2 separate regions of the Homo sapiens genome follow, and region 1 is linked to region 2. The links come from fine-mapping of genetic effects on gene expression. A gene starts in region 2. The other region holds a variant in brackets. All regions are shown on one strand. Distances are from middle to middle.

Region 1 (8,182 bases), 43 kb after region 2:
AAGGCCTAAATGTAGAAGCTAAAACTGTAAAACTCTTAGAATAAAACAAGGGGAAAGCTTTATGACACTGGATTTAGCATCAGTGGTTTCCTGGCTACAACACCAAAAGCACAAACAACAAGAAAAATAGACAAATCAATCAAAAGTAAAAACTGTTGTGTATCGAAGGACATTATCAACAGAGGGCAGCCCACAGAATGAGAGAAAATGTTTGTAAATCATATATCTGATAAGGGTTTAATATTCAGACTATATAAGCAACTCAACAACAACAACAAACCCTCAACTACAAAAAACAAAAAACTCCTAAACTCAATGACAAAAAAATAAACAACCCAATTTTTGTTTTTTTGGTTTTTTTCTTTTTTGAGACTGAGTTTCACTCTTGTCACTGGGGCTGGAGTGCAGTGGCACAGTCTCGGCTCACTGCAACCTCTGCCTCCCAGGTTCAAGCAATTCTCGAGCCTCAGCCTCCCGAGTAGCTGGGATTACAGGCACGTGCCACCATGCCCAGCTAATTTTCATATTTTTAGTAGAGACGGAGTTTCACCATGTTGGTCAGGATGGTTTCGATCTCTTGACCTCGTGATTCCCCCACCCCAGCCTCCCAAAGTGCTGGGATTACAGGCGTCTGCCACCATGCCCTGCTAATTTTTGTAATTTTAGTAGAGACGGGGTTTCACCATGTTGGCCAGGCTGGTCTTGAACTCCTGACCTCAGGTGATCTGCCCACCTCGGCCTCCTAAAATGCTGGGATTACAGGCAGGAGCCACCACGCACAACCCAAACAACCCAATTTTAAAATGGGCAAAGGACATGAATAAACAGTTCTCCAAAGAATACATACAAATTGCTAATAAGCACCAAAGATGCTGAATGTCAGTAATCACTGGGGAAAGGGCAAATCGAAACCACAATAAGATACCACCTTGAGCCCATTAGGATGATAGGGTACATTTAGAGAAATATATTTGGTCTTTGTCCCTGGTTCCTAGCACAGAGCCGCTAAAGCCCTTAGAATTTCCTGAGTGATAGTAGTGTCTTTTGTTATTCATAATGAAGCACCTATTGATCACATCTGAGTTTATGCTACTGAGGTGACTTAGGGTGAACCCTTAGATAGCTTCAGGATGGGGTTGGTCACCGGAAAGACCAGGTAAGTAGGAGGTTGGATCCTTCAGCCTCACCCCTAGACCTGTGAGAAGGGGAGGGGACTAGAAATCAAGCTCTAAAAAAGCTCTTGAACAAGCAGGTTGGAAGAGTTTCCAAGTTGTGGGAATGTGGTGCACCTGCAGCCCCCACCTCATACCTTGCCCTGCGCGTCTCTTCCCTCCAGCTGTTCTATGTACTTGAGCTCAGTCAATGAACACAAATTCCCTACAGTATTGGTCTCTGACACCAAAGAACAACATTTTGACAAATTGAGTTTTAAAGATTTAATTGACTCTTATTAGCAATGTATGAAACAGGCAGCCTCCAGACTACAAAACAGAAGGCACTCGGCTGGGTGTTGCAGAACAATCGGCTTTGGTAAGGCAGCTCAAGCAGGAATGAGGAAATCGTGTGGTGAGAAAAGTGCATTGGTTATCATTGGGTGACTTTCTGAGGCGGAGAATAGGGTCTGGAGGCAGGGAACCTAAGGCCGATTTCACGCTGACTTCCTAGAACTAAATCAAAAGGAAAACCCCAACTTTTCACACCTAAGTAACAAAAAAACCGGAGGTAGCCGGGCATGGTGGCTCACGCCTGTAATCCCAGCACTTTGGGAGGTCGAGGTGGGCGGATCACCTGAGGTCAGGAGTTTCAGCCCAGCCTGGCCAACGTGGTGAAACCCCGTCTCCACTAAAAATACAAAAATTAGTCTGGCGTGTTGGCGGGCGCCTGTAACCCCAGCTACTCGGGAGACTGAGGCAGGAGAATCGCTTGAACCCGGGCGGCGTAGGTTGCAGTGAGCGGAGATCGCGCCGTTGCACTGTAGCCTGAGCGACAAGAGTGAAACTCCGTCTCAAAAAAGAAAAAACAAACAAAAAACCGGAGGCTACTCCCTTTGCAAACCCCCACCCTTTTCTGCCTGGCAGATGGAAAATTGAAAGTGTCTCTGAGGGCAGCCAATCAGACGTTTACATAGGATTGTAACTTTGTAACTTCACTTCAGCCTCTGATTGGTCGCTTCCCACAACCAATCAGCTTGATTGTGGGCCAAGTCTTCCTTTGCATAGAACTGTAACTTTGTAACTTCACTTTGCAAACAGAGGCTTGCATCGGGTGTAACCTTTGTAACTTCACCTCAGCCTCTGGTTGCAGGTCACTACTTCATTTACATAGAGTGTACACCAGGTAACCAATGGGAAACCTCTAGAAGGTATTTAAACCCCAGAAAATTCTGTAAAAAGAGCCCCTATGCTCCAGCGGCTCCCACCCTGTGGAGCGTACTTTCATTTTCGATAAATCTCTCCTTTTGTTGCTTCCTTCTTTCCTTGCTTTGTTTGTGCGTTTTGTTCAATTCTTTGCTCAAAACGCCAACAACCTGGACCCCTCCACATTTCCTTGTATGAGTTTAAGCGGAGGAAACCTCTCTTATGCAGGCTCAAGTGGACTGGCCCCCTTTTGACTGGTTGCTGGTAGTCTCCTATTTTTTCAGGAAAACTGGCCCTGGTGGGGGATTTTCCTGTTTTGTTTAAGTTTCAGTTTGATTACGTGGCACTTAGCACAAGTGATTCCATTTTGGTCTGGCCTACTGGGGCCTAGTGCAGGAGCTCAGCCCAATTCAATGGCCTCCCATAAATCTTATTTAACACTTAGCACCACTGTGCACATGTGGAAGGTAAAACTCAGAGACGCTAAGTATCTGAGTGTGTCACAGAGCTAGTAAAAGGCAGAGCTGGGATCAGATACATTGATTCATTCACTCAAAAACCTTTTTTTATCGAGTGCATACTATGTATCAGCCTCTGGGTACTGAGCATGGGAGCAGAATCAGACACCCCGAACTGACAGGGCTCACAGACGAGAAGGGGAGACAGTTCTCAATCATAGAAATCACTTGTTCTCACAAACGGTGACACGTGCTATGAAGAAAAAGGCCTGAGAACTAGGAGGGCATCTAGAGGCGCCCTTTCTGGTCTAGGCGTCCTACAGGCAGCTGGAGGAAGACGTCTGAGCTGACATCAGATTCATGGGTAGGAGTCTACCAGGCCAGGGGGGTGAGTGCCTTCCAGTGCACAGAAAAGCTGTCCGGTTCCCGAAAGTTTCTTTTTCTTTCTCTCTCTGTGTGTGTGTGTGTGTGTGTGTGTGTGTGTGTGTGTGTGTGTTTGGGGGTCGGGGCAGGGTCTTGCTCTGTTGCCCAGGCTGGAGTAAAGTGAAACAATCGGCTTCACTGCAGCCTCGACTCGGGCACAAGCAATCCTCCTGTTTCGGCCTCCAGAGTAGCTGGGGCCACAGGAGCGCCACCGCGCCCCGCCTGAAGGTTTCTTCTCTCCATACTGGTAAAATCCTGAGCTGTGTTTGAGCCTCTCACAGGAGGAAGGTAACGTGACCTCCTCCAGCTCACTCACGTGACACTCGGTCCTCCTTGCGAACGGCTCTCTAAGAAGCTGTGGGAGTGACGCGCAGCCCCATTCCTCCACCCTTCTTGTGCCGGGTGTCCCCCACAGAAAAAAATGCGCCGGCCCCAGAGCTGCCGCCGACTGTTAAGGAAGGCCCTTTGCACCCAAGAATGGAAGCGGTGTGGGTCGGGGTGAGGGCCCCGAAAAGGGTGGTGAAGGCCCTGGCAGAGAGAACACTCAACGTTCTCTGCCAGCTGCTTCCCTGCTGGTCCCGGGAGCCCCAGCCTCCCTTCCACAGGGGCGGGGGAGGACACGGGGCGGGGGCGACAC[G/A]CGTGGGGGTGGGGCGGACGTGGGCGGAGACACATGGGGGAGGGGCAGGCACCTGAAAGGAGGCGACACCGGGAGGAGGGGCACCCCGCGGGGAAGGGGTGGGGAGGGAAGCGAAGGGGCACCCCGCGGGGGAGGCGAGGGAAGGGGGCATCCCGCAGGGAAGGGGGTGGGGGAAGGGCACCCCCCGCGCGGGTCTGCCCTGGCTGGAGCATCCCGGGGTCCTCAGACTGCAGGAGCTGGGAGACCGAGACCAGCTCAGCTGCTCTTCCTCACTTCTGTGCCAAAAGGGAAAAGAAGTGCCGCGTTGGTGTGGCTGAGAAACGCCTCCTGGAAGAAGGGGCCTGACCCTGGAGCTGCCATGTTGGCACTTTTCTTCCAACCGCAGCCCGCCAGGCACAAACGCGAAGTCCCTGGAAGCGCAGCTCGAAAAGACAGGCGGCCCTCCAGGCTCCCTCCCTGGCGCTCCGGGCTCCACGCGGCCCTCGGCGCACTCGGAGCAGAGGGATGGGGACCCCGCCGAGGATCCAGGCCACCTGGGCAGGCCGGGTGCTCAGGACGCAGCCCGGGCTGTCCCATCGAAGGTGACAGCTCGCCCACCTCCCTGTGGCCTCGGGCGGGCCACGCTGTCATCCCTTGGAGGCTCCCCGCCAGGGGCCTGGCCTGAGCGCTAGGATGACAGGTGTGGGATGGTGAGGCTGCCTCCTCTGAGTTAGGTCAGATAGCCCAGAATATCTGCTTTGGAACGGAAAGGCCCCCCATTTATGTCACTGATGCTCGGCTGGTCAATAAAGCAGGACACAGAAGTTGTAGGAAAATTGATACTCCTCACCCCCGATTCAATAGAGCTATTTTCACTGGTAGTTCAAAAGAAAATGTGGCCAGGCGCAGTGGCTCACGCCTGTAATCCCAGCACTTTTGGGAGGCCGAGGTGGGTGGATCGCTTGAGGTCAGGAGTTCGAGACCAGCCTCGCCAACAAGGTGAAACCCCAACAAGGTGAAACCCCGTCTCTAATAAAAATACAAAAAGTAGCCGGGCGTGATGGCGGTTGCCTGTAATCCCAGCTACTCAGGAGGCTGGGGCAGGAGAATCGCTTGAACCCGGGAAGCAGAGGTTGCAGTGAGGTGAGATGGTGATGGTGCCACTGCACTCCAGCCTGGGTGACAGAGTGCAACTCTGCCTCAAAAAAAAAAAAAAAAAGAATATGTGGGCATATTTTAAAACCACCACAGCTAGTAATAGTCATAACAAAGAATTATATCATTTATTCATTTATTTGCAAGACTATCATATTTTAAATGCTGCTCCTCCTGATGTTAGAAAGTGTCTGGTTTTTTTTTTGTTTTTTTTTTTTACCATATTTGACAATAACATAAGTCTATTGGAGAAATTTTTACTGTAGTGTATTTATTTTTTTGAGAAGGTCTTGCTGTGTTACCCAGGCTGGAGTGAGTGAAGCAGTCACAGCTCACTGCAGCCTCAGCCTCCCAAGCTCAAACCATTCTCCCATCTCAGCCTCCCCCACATCAGCCTCCCTACTAACTGGGACTACAGGCAAGCACCACTGTGCTTGGCAATTTATTTTATTATTTTATTTTATTTTATAATTTTTTGTAGAGACAAGGTCTCACTATGTTGCCCAGGCTGGTCTTGAACTCCTGGGCTTATGCAATCCTCCGCTTCAGCCTCCCAAAGTGCTGAGATTACAGATGTGAGCATACACCATATCTATTAAAATTAAATAGTGTATTTAATAATTTCTTTTTATGAAGTTAAAAACAATAGTCCTCAAAAGAAAGAGTTTCTTAAAAACTCATTTAATTAAAGAATTAAGCTTTACGCAAAACAGATTATATCCACCGATGGTTACAAACATCAAAATTATTCAAAAGTCCCCCCAAACACTTCATCCTGGAATTTTAACTAATGCCTGAAATTAACTAATGCAGGAAACTTTAACTTAAGAACTTTCCTGATTCTTTAAACCAAATGTAGAGTTACTCTATGGGGCTTCAAGCCCCTACCTTCTTTATTTGGTCCTTTACAGTCTAAACCCTTTGGACATCACTAACTTAAAGGTTACTTTGATTTCAACTATCTTCTTTATACTCATCTCTATTTTCTGATTTTTCTAAAGTGAGTTTATGTTGTTTTCATAATTTTTATAAAAGTTATTTTCATTTTTAAAATTAACTTCAACTCTAAGAAATTTTTCAGGTCACATTTAAAAAATAGAAAAATGGGAGTTTTTAATGGCTTTATTAGATTTGTGTGTATGGATTACATGTCAATAAAAAGTTTACTCAAAAAACAAACCAGTTGTCATTGTGTACACCTGTAGTTCCAGCTACTTGGGGAGGCTGAGGAGGGAGGATCACTAGAGCCCAGGAGGTTGAGGCTGCAGTGAGCTACGATCATGCCACACTGCACTTCAGCCTGTGTAACAGAGCAAGATCTTGTCTCTAAAAAGGAAGAAGAAAAAGTACCCCACAAAAGTCTCAAACTGAAGGCTCATGGGCCAAATCCAGCCTCAGGGGACTTTCTCGGGCCTTGTTGACTTAGTTACCAAAATACAGGACAGTCCTCCGACACCACTAGGGGCTCCACTATCCGCCTGAACTGTGGCGGCCCTACCCACCCCAGGAGCCCTGGCAGGGAGCAAAGGGAGCTGCCCACTCTGTCCCCCCTTCTGACAGTCCCTGCACTGTCCCTGTGGTCTCTAGATGACCGGTGAGTAATCTCTTCATTAAGCTCTGCTTCAGTTATTCAAAGGTGGAGTGTTGTCCTTGCTGCTAGTTCCCCAAGCAGATTTCACAGGGTTGATGTGAAAAGCCAGACAGGTAGGGACAACATGGTTATAGATCCTAAAGAAAGACTAGAATGAAGTGACAATGATTATTTCTGGAATTACAGATGATTCTTATTTATTTTACCTTCTTTTTTTTTTTTTTAAAGAGACAAAGTCTCTCTCTGTCATCCAGGCTGGAGTGCAGTGGCCCCATCATAGTTCACTACAGCCTTGACCTCCTGGGTTCAAGCCATCCTCCCACCTCAGCCTCCAGAGTAGCTGGGACTATTTTTTTTTTTGTAGAGATGGGATCTCGCTATGTTGCCCAGGCTGCTCTTGACCTCCTGACCTCAAGCTATCCTCCTGCCTTGACTTCCCAAAGTGCTGGGATTACAGACATGAGCCACAGTTCTTAGTCCTTTATTTTATTTTCTATGGTCTCTATAATGCACTATTTTTTTATAACCATACCCGATATAAAGGGGCAAATGCCATTAATAGTATACATATTTATAATTAAAAATGAGGCCGGGCGCAGTGGTTCATGCCTGTAATCCCAGCACTTTGGGAGGCCAAGGCAGGTGGATCATCTGAGATCAAGAGTTCAAGACCACCCTGGCCAACATGGCAAAACACCATCCCTACTAAAAATACAAAAATTAGCCAGGTGTGGTGGTGAGCGCCTGTAATCCCAGCTACCCAGGAGGCTGAGGCAGGAGAATCGCTGGAACCCAGGAGGCAGAGGCTGCAGTGAGCTGAGATCACGCCACTGCACTCCAGCCTGGGCAATAGAGCAAGATTCCATCTCAAAAAAATAAAAATAAAAAATAAAAAAATAAGGCCAGGAGTAGCCCCAGAGGGAGTGTCTTGTGAGACGAGGATGCAATGCTAGTGTAGGGACATTGTCACAATAACCTAAATAGGACTGTAACCCCAGCACCATCCAGTAATGATTTTTCTGTTTTCAGGAGAAGTGGGTGGTTAACGGACCATAAATGCTGCTTGTTAAGCAAGTCAGCTACAGTGCTGTGGGCCCATTGGAGAAAAGATGCTTTGCATATCCATAAACTTCTAACACTGCAATTCTCCTGCCTACAATTTGCTTTCTTTAGGAAGCCTGTTTTCCTGAATATATATATATGTACGTATATATGTATGTGTATATGTATATATTAATATACATATATATATGAGATAATTTTCTTCTCCGTTTTCTTTTTTTTTTTTTTTGAGATGGAGTCTTGCTCTGTTGCCCAGGCTGGAGTGCAGTGGTGCCATCTCAGCCCACTACAACCTCCACCTCCCAGGTTCAAGTGATTCTCCTACCCCAGCCTCCCGAGTAGCTGGGACTACAGGCACCTGCCACCATGCCCAGCTAATTTTGTTTTTTGTATTTTTGGTAGAGATGTGGTTTTTCCATGTTGGCCAGGCTGGTCTTGAACTCCTGACCTCAGGTGATCTGCCCACCTCGGCCTCCCAAAGGGCTGGGATTACAGGCATGAGCAACAGTGCCTGGTCCTG
Region 2 (8,000 bases):
GCCACCCTCCATTCTGACTACCCAATTTTCTGGAATTAAATAAATTATCCGACGAGAGTTGGATACAGGTTGTATTAACTGCACAGCCCAGAAAATTTCCACAGGGGACATTTCCAAGGCCTGCAGAGCCCATATGAGACATGCAAATCTCATTTTTCCACATGCGAGATAAGAAATAAACACTGCTTGTTTATATTTTTCTCCAAGTTGCAATCACTTCATAGAAATTATCCCATGGATTTTATTTTATTTTATTTATTTTTATTTTATTTTATTTTAGAGACAGGGCCTTGCTCTGTCACTCAGGCTGGAGTGGAGGGGCATGGCTCACTGCAGCCTCGACCTCCCAGGCTCAAGCAATCCTTCCACTTCAGCCTCCTGAGTAGCTGGGACTAAAGGCACGAGCCACCTTGCCAGGTTAATTTTTTAATATTTTTGTGGAGACTGGATGGGGGGTTGGGGTAGGGGAGCATCTCACTGTATTGCCCAGGCTAGTCTCGAACTCCTGGGCTCAAGCAATCCTCCTGCCTTGGCCTCTAAAAGTGCTGGAATTACAGGCATGATCCACCACACCCGCTAACTGTTTGTTAATTAATACTTTGTGATTCAGAAACAACAGATTGTAAAATCCTCCTGTGGACAAAAATTGGCACAGAGCTGGGCGCAATGAATTCTCTGAGTAGAGAAAGTGGAACCTTCCCATCCGTCAACACCCAGCCCAAGGCCTTGTATGAGGAGAAGTTCAATAAATAAAAGTTGGATTGCTGGAATTCGTTTTTTTTTTTTTTTTTTTTTTTTTTTTTGAGATGGAGTTTTGCTCTTGTTGCCCAGGCTGGAGCGCAGTGGCACGATCTCAGCTCACTGCAACCTCCACCTCCCAGGTTCAAGCAATTCTCCTGCCTCTGCCTCCCGAGTAGCTGGGATTACAGGTGCGCACCACCCCACCATGCCCGGCTAATTTTTTGTATTTTTAGTAGAAACAGAGTTTCATCATGTTGGCCAAGCTGGTCTCAAACTCCCGACCTCGGGTGATCCACCCGCCTCGGCCTCCTAAAGTGCTGGGATTACAGGCATGAGCTACCACACCCAGCTGGATTCATTTTTTTAAGTGCTATTAGAGCTATTTATAGCCCGCAGAGTAACTGAAATACTATACATTGTCAATCAGCATAGTAAGTAAGGAATAGTGACGGTCTATACAAGTAATTTTGTTTTTGTTTTTTTGTTTTTGTTTTGAGATGGAGTCTTGCTCTGTCACCCAGGCTGGAGTACAGTGGTGCAGTCTCAGCTCACTGCAACCTCCGCTTCCCCGGTTCAAGTGATTCTCCTGCCTCAGCCTCCTGAGTAGTTGGGATTACAGGCAGGTGCCGCCACACACGGCTAATTTTTGTATTTTTAGTAGCAACGGGGTTTCACCACGTTGGCCAGGCTGGTATCAAGCTCCCGACCTCATGTGATCCGCCCGCCTCGGCCTCCCAAAGTGCTGGGATTACAGGCGTGAGCCACCACCGTGCCTGGCTTATACAAGTAATTGTAAACGAAAAGGAAAAAATGGAGATACAGTTTTCTCGTGCATCTTAAACTTTGGTGCTTAAAAGCACCATTAAATTCTGCTTTCACATGAACACACACAAGATTACCACGTTTGCTCTGGGCTGCTGCGTATTGGAAGGACATACACATTCAACAAATATTTGTTGAACTTCCATTCTGTACACAAAGCACAAAGAAAGATTCGTTCACAGTCCGTGTGGGTACTGGAAAGCAGTTCCAGCCCTGCCTGCCAGGGGGCACCCCAGGCAAGCACATCTCAGTGGCTGCTAGAAAGTGAATTGAGGCTGAGTCTCTCCACACCCAAGTGTTAGGCGTTCTAGGCTCAGAAAGAGACAATGACAATGCGGGCAATTCTCTCTTCACTGTGTCCTCTTCTTTGCTAGAAATGTTATTAGAATATGGAAATGTGACATTCAGCACTAATCAGTTTGACATATGAATATATCTATACACATATTTCTCCCTGAAATTGGCCTAAATACTCTTTCTTGGAACCAAATGAGAAGCAAACAACCTTTACAACTAAACATTAAACCATAAGATGAACATCTTAGTTGTCTACCTAGAAATTGTACAGTATGACAAGTGTAAAGAAACTGCTAGCTTCTTAGTTGTGCTGGTCTTTACACAATACCACTTTAAAAATTGTTTTATGGTAGTAAAATATACATAACCTTTAATTTACCATTTAACCTTTCTTAATGTGTACAGTTCTGTGGCATTAAGTACATTCACATTGTTATGCAACCATTACCATCATCTGCTTCCAAAACTATTTCTATCTTCCCAAACTAAAACTCCGTACCTATGAAACTCTATCTTCCCGTTTCCCACTGCCCCAGCTGCTGGTAACCACACTTCTACTTTCCGTCTCTATGATTTTGACTGCTGTAGGTACCTCATGTAAATGGAATCATACAGTATTTGTGACTTTTGTGACTGGCTTATTTCATTTAGCATAATGTACTCAAGGTTCGTCCACGTTGTAGCATGTGATGGGGCTCTCCCTTTTTAAGGCTGAATAATATTCCACTGTAGGTATGCAATACATTTTGTTTATCCATTCATCCATTGATGGACACCTTTTGGCTATAGTAAATAATGCTTGTATGAACATATATGTAAAATATTTGTTCGAATTACATAATATAATTTAAAATCTATATTTTAATAAAAATTTTAAAATTATTACAATATTATATTTCCATTTTTATCCTCAGAATACCAATAATAGCATTTGGCAAACAGACTACAAATATTAACAATTCCTAGTGCTTTTGTGATCAACAAAAAAAAAAAAACTATTCCTGTGCTTCTCAGAGAAAATGTTTTAAATGAGAAAAATATTCAAGTATTTTAAGACCTTCAAAGGTAGCATTTTTCAATTAAAAATTAAAAACTAAGTCTCCGTAACTACTACCTACTCCATACATACACCGCAAAGTTCCCAAAGGGAGAAGATATTTTAGATGCGCCTTTAGGAGCTTAGTTTTTCCTCCTTGGGATAACTTTAAATTCAGATCTCAGCAGAACAAACGCATTTTTCAGGGCAAGCCAACTGCTAATCCGAGTAGATCTAAACGCTAACGAAGGCAGCCGACGGAAGCTGCTCCATGAAGACACGAAAACTATCAGACTTGCATTTTGCCACATTCCTGGAATAAACTTATTACTCATAAAGGTGATTTTGAAGCCATTTCAGCTTGTGGAATGATCACCGAAATGCAGTCCACCGATATTTGTTAATATCCCAGGCTGGTCAAACCCCACTCCAGACCTTGGGGGACGGGGAGGGGACCCGCGGCCTCTCTAGGCTGTGCCCAGACAGCAGACAAGGACGCGATGCCGCCCTCGGTCCGCGGCCTTCCGCGGTAGGCGTCCCTCTCAAGCGTGGTAAAACCACCCCGAAGGGAACAGAAAACGTTAAAATCTTCGTTGGGCGCCAGCAGGCAGGTTAGGCCTCGCCCTGGCATCTCGTCTCCAGGACCAGATGGAGCGAGTGACCCGCGGGGACACCTTCCCGGTCACCTCGAGCGCAATAAAACAAGTTCTTTTTTTAAAAATAAGCATCCGTGTGCCTGCCGGCTAAATTAAGTGTGTCTGAAGAGAAGCAGGATGGCGGCCGCTATTTATAACCTCCCGCCCCGCCCGGGCGCCACTCCTCGACAGCACCCACGCTGTGCCCGGCGGCGCTTCCGCGGGGACTTCCTGCTCGGTGGTCCCCGCCCCGCCCCGCGCCAGCCGTCCGGAACCCGCGTCCCCAGGCGGCTGCAGGCGGGCGAGACCTAGGTGCCCGACGCCCACGCGCCTCCGACCGTGGGAGCGCCCGGAGAGCAGCTACCTCGCCGGGCCTGCGAAGCCCAGGACAGGCGCGAGCGGGGCGCGGGCTGGCGCATCTGCGTGCGGTGGGCGCCCCGCAAGCGGGTCGGGCCCGCCCCAACAGCCCTCGGCTCTCCTCTCACGTCCCGCGCGGGCATGCCCCGGAGTGCGTAGGCGGCAGGGAAGAGCCCCCGCGTCCACATCCCCAGGGCCCGCGCAGGTGCGGGATGGGGATGCAGGCGCTAGGCATGGACGTGCGCGCGGGGTAGGGTGTGGAATGCGGACGCGGGCGAGTGCTGTGGCTGCGCGTACAGGGTAGGGATGCGGGGGCGGTAGGTGTGCGTGCTGGGAAGCGCGCGGGGCGGGGCTGTTCGGAGGCGGCGGGGGCGTGGCGCGGCGTCCTGAGCTGCAGCTTGGGGGCGTCGGGCGCAGCGCACACTGGGGCTGCAGGGATGGCGATCAGGGCGGGGAGGTCGGGCCCTGGCGCGGGGCGCACGCGTGAAGCAGCACCGCACGTGTGAAAGGAATTCTTTTCAGAGCGGCCGGGAGCCCTGCTCCGGAGGAACGCACCCGGGTCGCCGCCGCGGCAGAGCGGGGTAAGGCGGGCCGGGCGCCCCGGAGGCCAGGCACAGGGGCCGAGGGCAGCGCGGGGCGGGGACGGGCGGGTCGGCGGCGCAGCGGAGCTGCCGGGCGAGCCCAGCGGGCTGAGACTGCCGAGCTGGGAAGCCGAGCCCCGGCACGTGTGCGGCTCCCAGCCCCCTAGGATTCTTTCAGGATTCTTCAAAAAGTTGTGGGGAGCTCGGGAAATTTGTGAGAAACTTTTGGAATAATTGATCTTCCTCCTTTGCTCCTGGAGGTCTGGAGAGCAGCGCCTCGTTTGGCTTCCCTTGATGGACAGTCCAAGGCCGAGTTTAAGTTGTTTTCCTGGGGTTGTTTTCCCCCTCGGGTGGAGGAAGCCGGGCTGTCCCGGACCGTCAGGCTGTAGGGCTCCTAGCGATGCTGAAATGCTTGAAAACTCTAAGCAGATGTCACCGCGCCAGCTAACGGCGCGCACCCAGCCGTCCACGGGCATTCAGCATCGCCGTGCTCCTAAAAGTCCTGTTGGGATTGTTTAGAAACAAGGTTGGCTCGCCTACATTTTTTTCAGAAACTTTTTAAAACTTTTTATTTTTAAGAAACACTGTAGCTATTAATGCCACGACCAGATTTCTCGACCTGTATGTTTGTTATGATGTGTTCAACTATAAGGAATTTGCAGAGGAGTGGAAAAGCACTGTCCGAGCCCCTTCCCGTAGGAGACTTGAGAAAACAAACGGCAGTGACGCGGCTGCATTTGCTTTGTTGCCGACTCCACACTAGTGAGCAAAATTCATCCTACCATGTAGAGTTCTCGGTTCGTGAATATGTGACTGCAACTTTAGAACTCCAGTTTTTATTTTATCAAGATGTCTCCAAAACATGCCATTTAAAAATGATTCTATACAAACAGCTGACAAGCGAATTATGGGTCTCATCACCCAGGAATTAAAAACCATGGTGATTTATGATGTGCGCATCACTTCACTGGCGGTCCATCCATGTGCAAGACAAACATTAAAAGATTAAAGAGGAAAAAAGAGGGATTTATTTTCCGAATATCAGTGTGTTCAAAGTAAACATCAGCTAGTTTGGCACAGATTCCACCTGCTCAGCAGTTTGGTTCATATCGAGATAAGCATCTCATAAGGGCAATGCATGTGTTGCTGTAGTGGAAAGTAATTCACGAAACGGTACTACTCTAACAAATCAGACAGTACTGTTTCTTAACCAGGAACCGTTAACTGGCTGAAAGCTGTCTTAAAAGAATGGCGGGTAACAAAATTTTTTGCCAATAAGGAAAATATTTTTGACCCAGTTTTCTTGAATGTTACTCACATTTTAACTTATTATATTCATTTCTCTTAGCTAAAATAACGTGTACACACTACATTTGAAACGAAAAATTACGTTTATCGCAGCCTTTTTTTTTTTTTTTTTTTTTTTTTTTTTTGAGATGGAGTCTCGCTCTGTCACCCAGGCTGGAGTGCAGTGGTGCGATCTCGGCTCACTGCAACCTCCCGAGTAGCTGGGACTACAGGCGTCTACCACCATGCCTTCTTCCTCCCTCCGCTGGATGGTAGCTATTCCCAGTACTATGTAGTACTTACATTTTGATCTGTTTTTTGCCACTCTGCCTCTCTCATAGATTGCAAATGAATCTCCTGAGAGTGAGGACTGGATCTTAATTGTTTTGCTGTCCTCAGTGTGTGGCACAGTGCCACACACAATAGGTAATAATGTTTTATAATAATAATAAATGTTTACTGAATTGAGGAGGGAAAAAATCCAATATATGTGACAACAGCATATATGTCTCTAAAAAACAGTATGTTTCTGCAATTTCTGTATAATGCTTAAAGGCAATAAAAATAATAAAGTTTCATCTTAATTTTCATTCCTACAGTGGTGGAAAATTCCTCATGATAACTAGGTTAGTACTCTACTGCTTGCTTTTTTTCTTTTTCTTTTTCTTTTTTTTTTTTTTTTTTTTTTTTGAGAGTTTTGCTCTTGTCCAGGCTGGAGTGCAATGGCACAGTGGCACAGTCTTGGCTCATTGCGACTTCTGCCTCCCAGTTAAAGCGATTCTCCTGCCTCAGCCTCCCTTGTAGCTGGGATTACAGGCATGCGCCACCACGCCTGGCTAATTTTTGTATTTTTAGTAGAGACACAGTTTCACCATGTTGGACAGGCTGGTCTCAAACTCCTGACCTCAGGTGATCCACCCACCTCAGCCTCCCAAAGTGCTGGAATTACAGGCGTGAGCCACCGCGCCCAGCCTACTGCTTGCTTTTTTAAAACTCCTGTACATCTCCAAAAGTAATGGTTGATGTGAATAGTTTCCACACTCTTATGTGTCTTATTTAATTTGAAGAATTGGTTTGCTTTAAATTTACTGTTAACAAACTAATGATACTAGATATAAAAATTAATTAGCTTTTTACATTTAGACCTCCTGATTATCTCCATGGATTATTGCTTATTTATTCCTGAAACTCCATTTCCTGTTGATTTTAAAATAAATCTTTTATTCTAGAACATAGAAGCAATTTCTGGTTACACAGCAATAGAAGTAGATTTGAGTAAGAAAAGTGAAATCATACTAATACTATAGAAATTATTTCTGCAAAAAAATAGAAAATATTTTGACAGATGTAATTTTTATCAGTAATATCAGTGGAATAATAAAATACCATAATTATCAGGTTGTGGGATTTTGTTCACTAAGCAAGAGTAAAAATATCTGAATTTACTTTAAAAAGATAATTCTGACTGGGTGTGGTGGCTCATGCATGTAATCCCAGCACTTTTTGGGAGGCTGAGGCAGGAGGATCTCTTGAGCCCAGGAGTTTGAGACCAGCCCAGGCAATATAGTGAGATACAGTCACTTCAAAATATTTTTTATAAAATTAGCCCAGTGTGGTGGTACAAACCTATAGTCCCAGCTACTCAGGAGGCTGAGGCAGGAGGATCATTTGAGCCCAAGAGATTGAGGCTGCAGTAAGCCATAAGTGTGACAGAAAAAAAAAAAAAGATAATTCAAATTTGTGATGAAGTAATTGGGCTGTCCTTAGCATATCAGTAATATTTAACCATTTTTATAAAAGATAAAAATACCCCCCTTGAGACAGTCTGGACTGGAAAAAAAAAGTGAAAGCTTAACATGTACTCCAGCCCACATTTCTAAACATATGTATTCCAGTATGTTAGAATATAATAAAATGCAAAAGGCATGTAATACATAGTGTCATAAGCTGAACAGTCTGCCTGCTGCATCGCCCATGAAGTGGTGTGGGAGGGGAAGGGAAGTTGGGCCAGGAGTTGGAGGTTGGGCACTTCTGTGCTGGTGTCAGCACTGTGGGCTGTGCAACTTTAGGCAAGTCTCAGGACCCTCTCTGAGCTGCCATTTCCCAGTTTGTAAAATAAGGAGCATAAACTAGACCACTTCTAAGGTTCATCCCTTGCCAAAATGCTAAGATTCCATATTTCTTCTGTCGATAATGAGTAAGGTTCCTGAAGGATGTCATTTGGATTTATATGAGGAAATTGCC

What was found.
Region 1: its variant is fine-mapped to the expression of GJA3 in whole blood (TOPMed, PIP 0.94).

What each region holds. Positions count from the first base shown.
Region 1 is chr13:20,114,702-20,122,883 of GRCh38, reverse strand. LOC105370101 (a long non-coding RNA gene) reads left to right here and starts at 3,095. Exons shown (of 3, transcript XR_941719.3): 1 at 3,095-3,179. RefSeq lists a silencer at 4,336-4,395 and an enhancer at 4,566-4,615. The variant G/A (reference allele first, on the strand shown) is at 3,876.
Region 2 is chr13:20,157,359-20,165,358 of GRCh38, reverse strand. GJA3 (gap junction protein alpha 3) reads left to right here and starts at 4,307. Exons shown (of 2, transcript NM_021954.4): 1 at 4,307-4,469. RefSeq lists silencers at 3,657-4,016, 4,247-4,326, 4,487-4,576.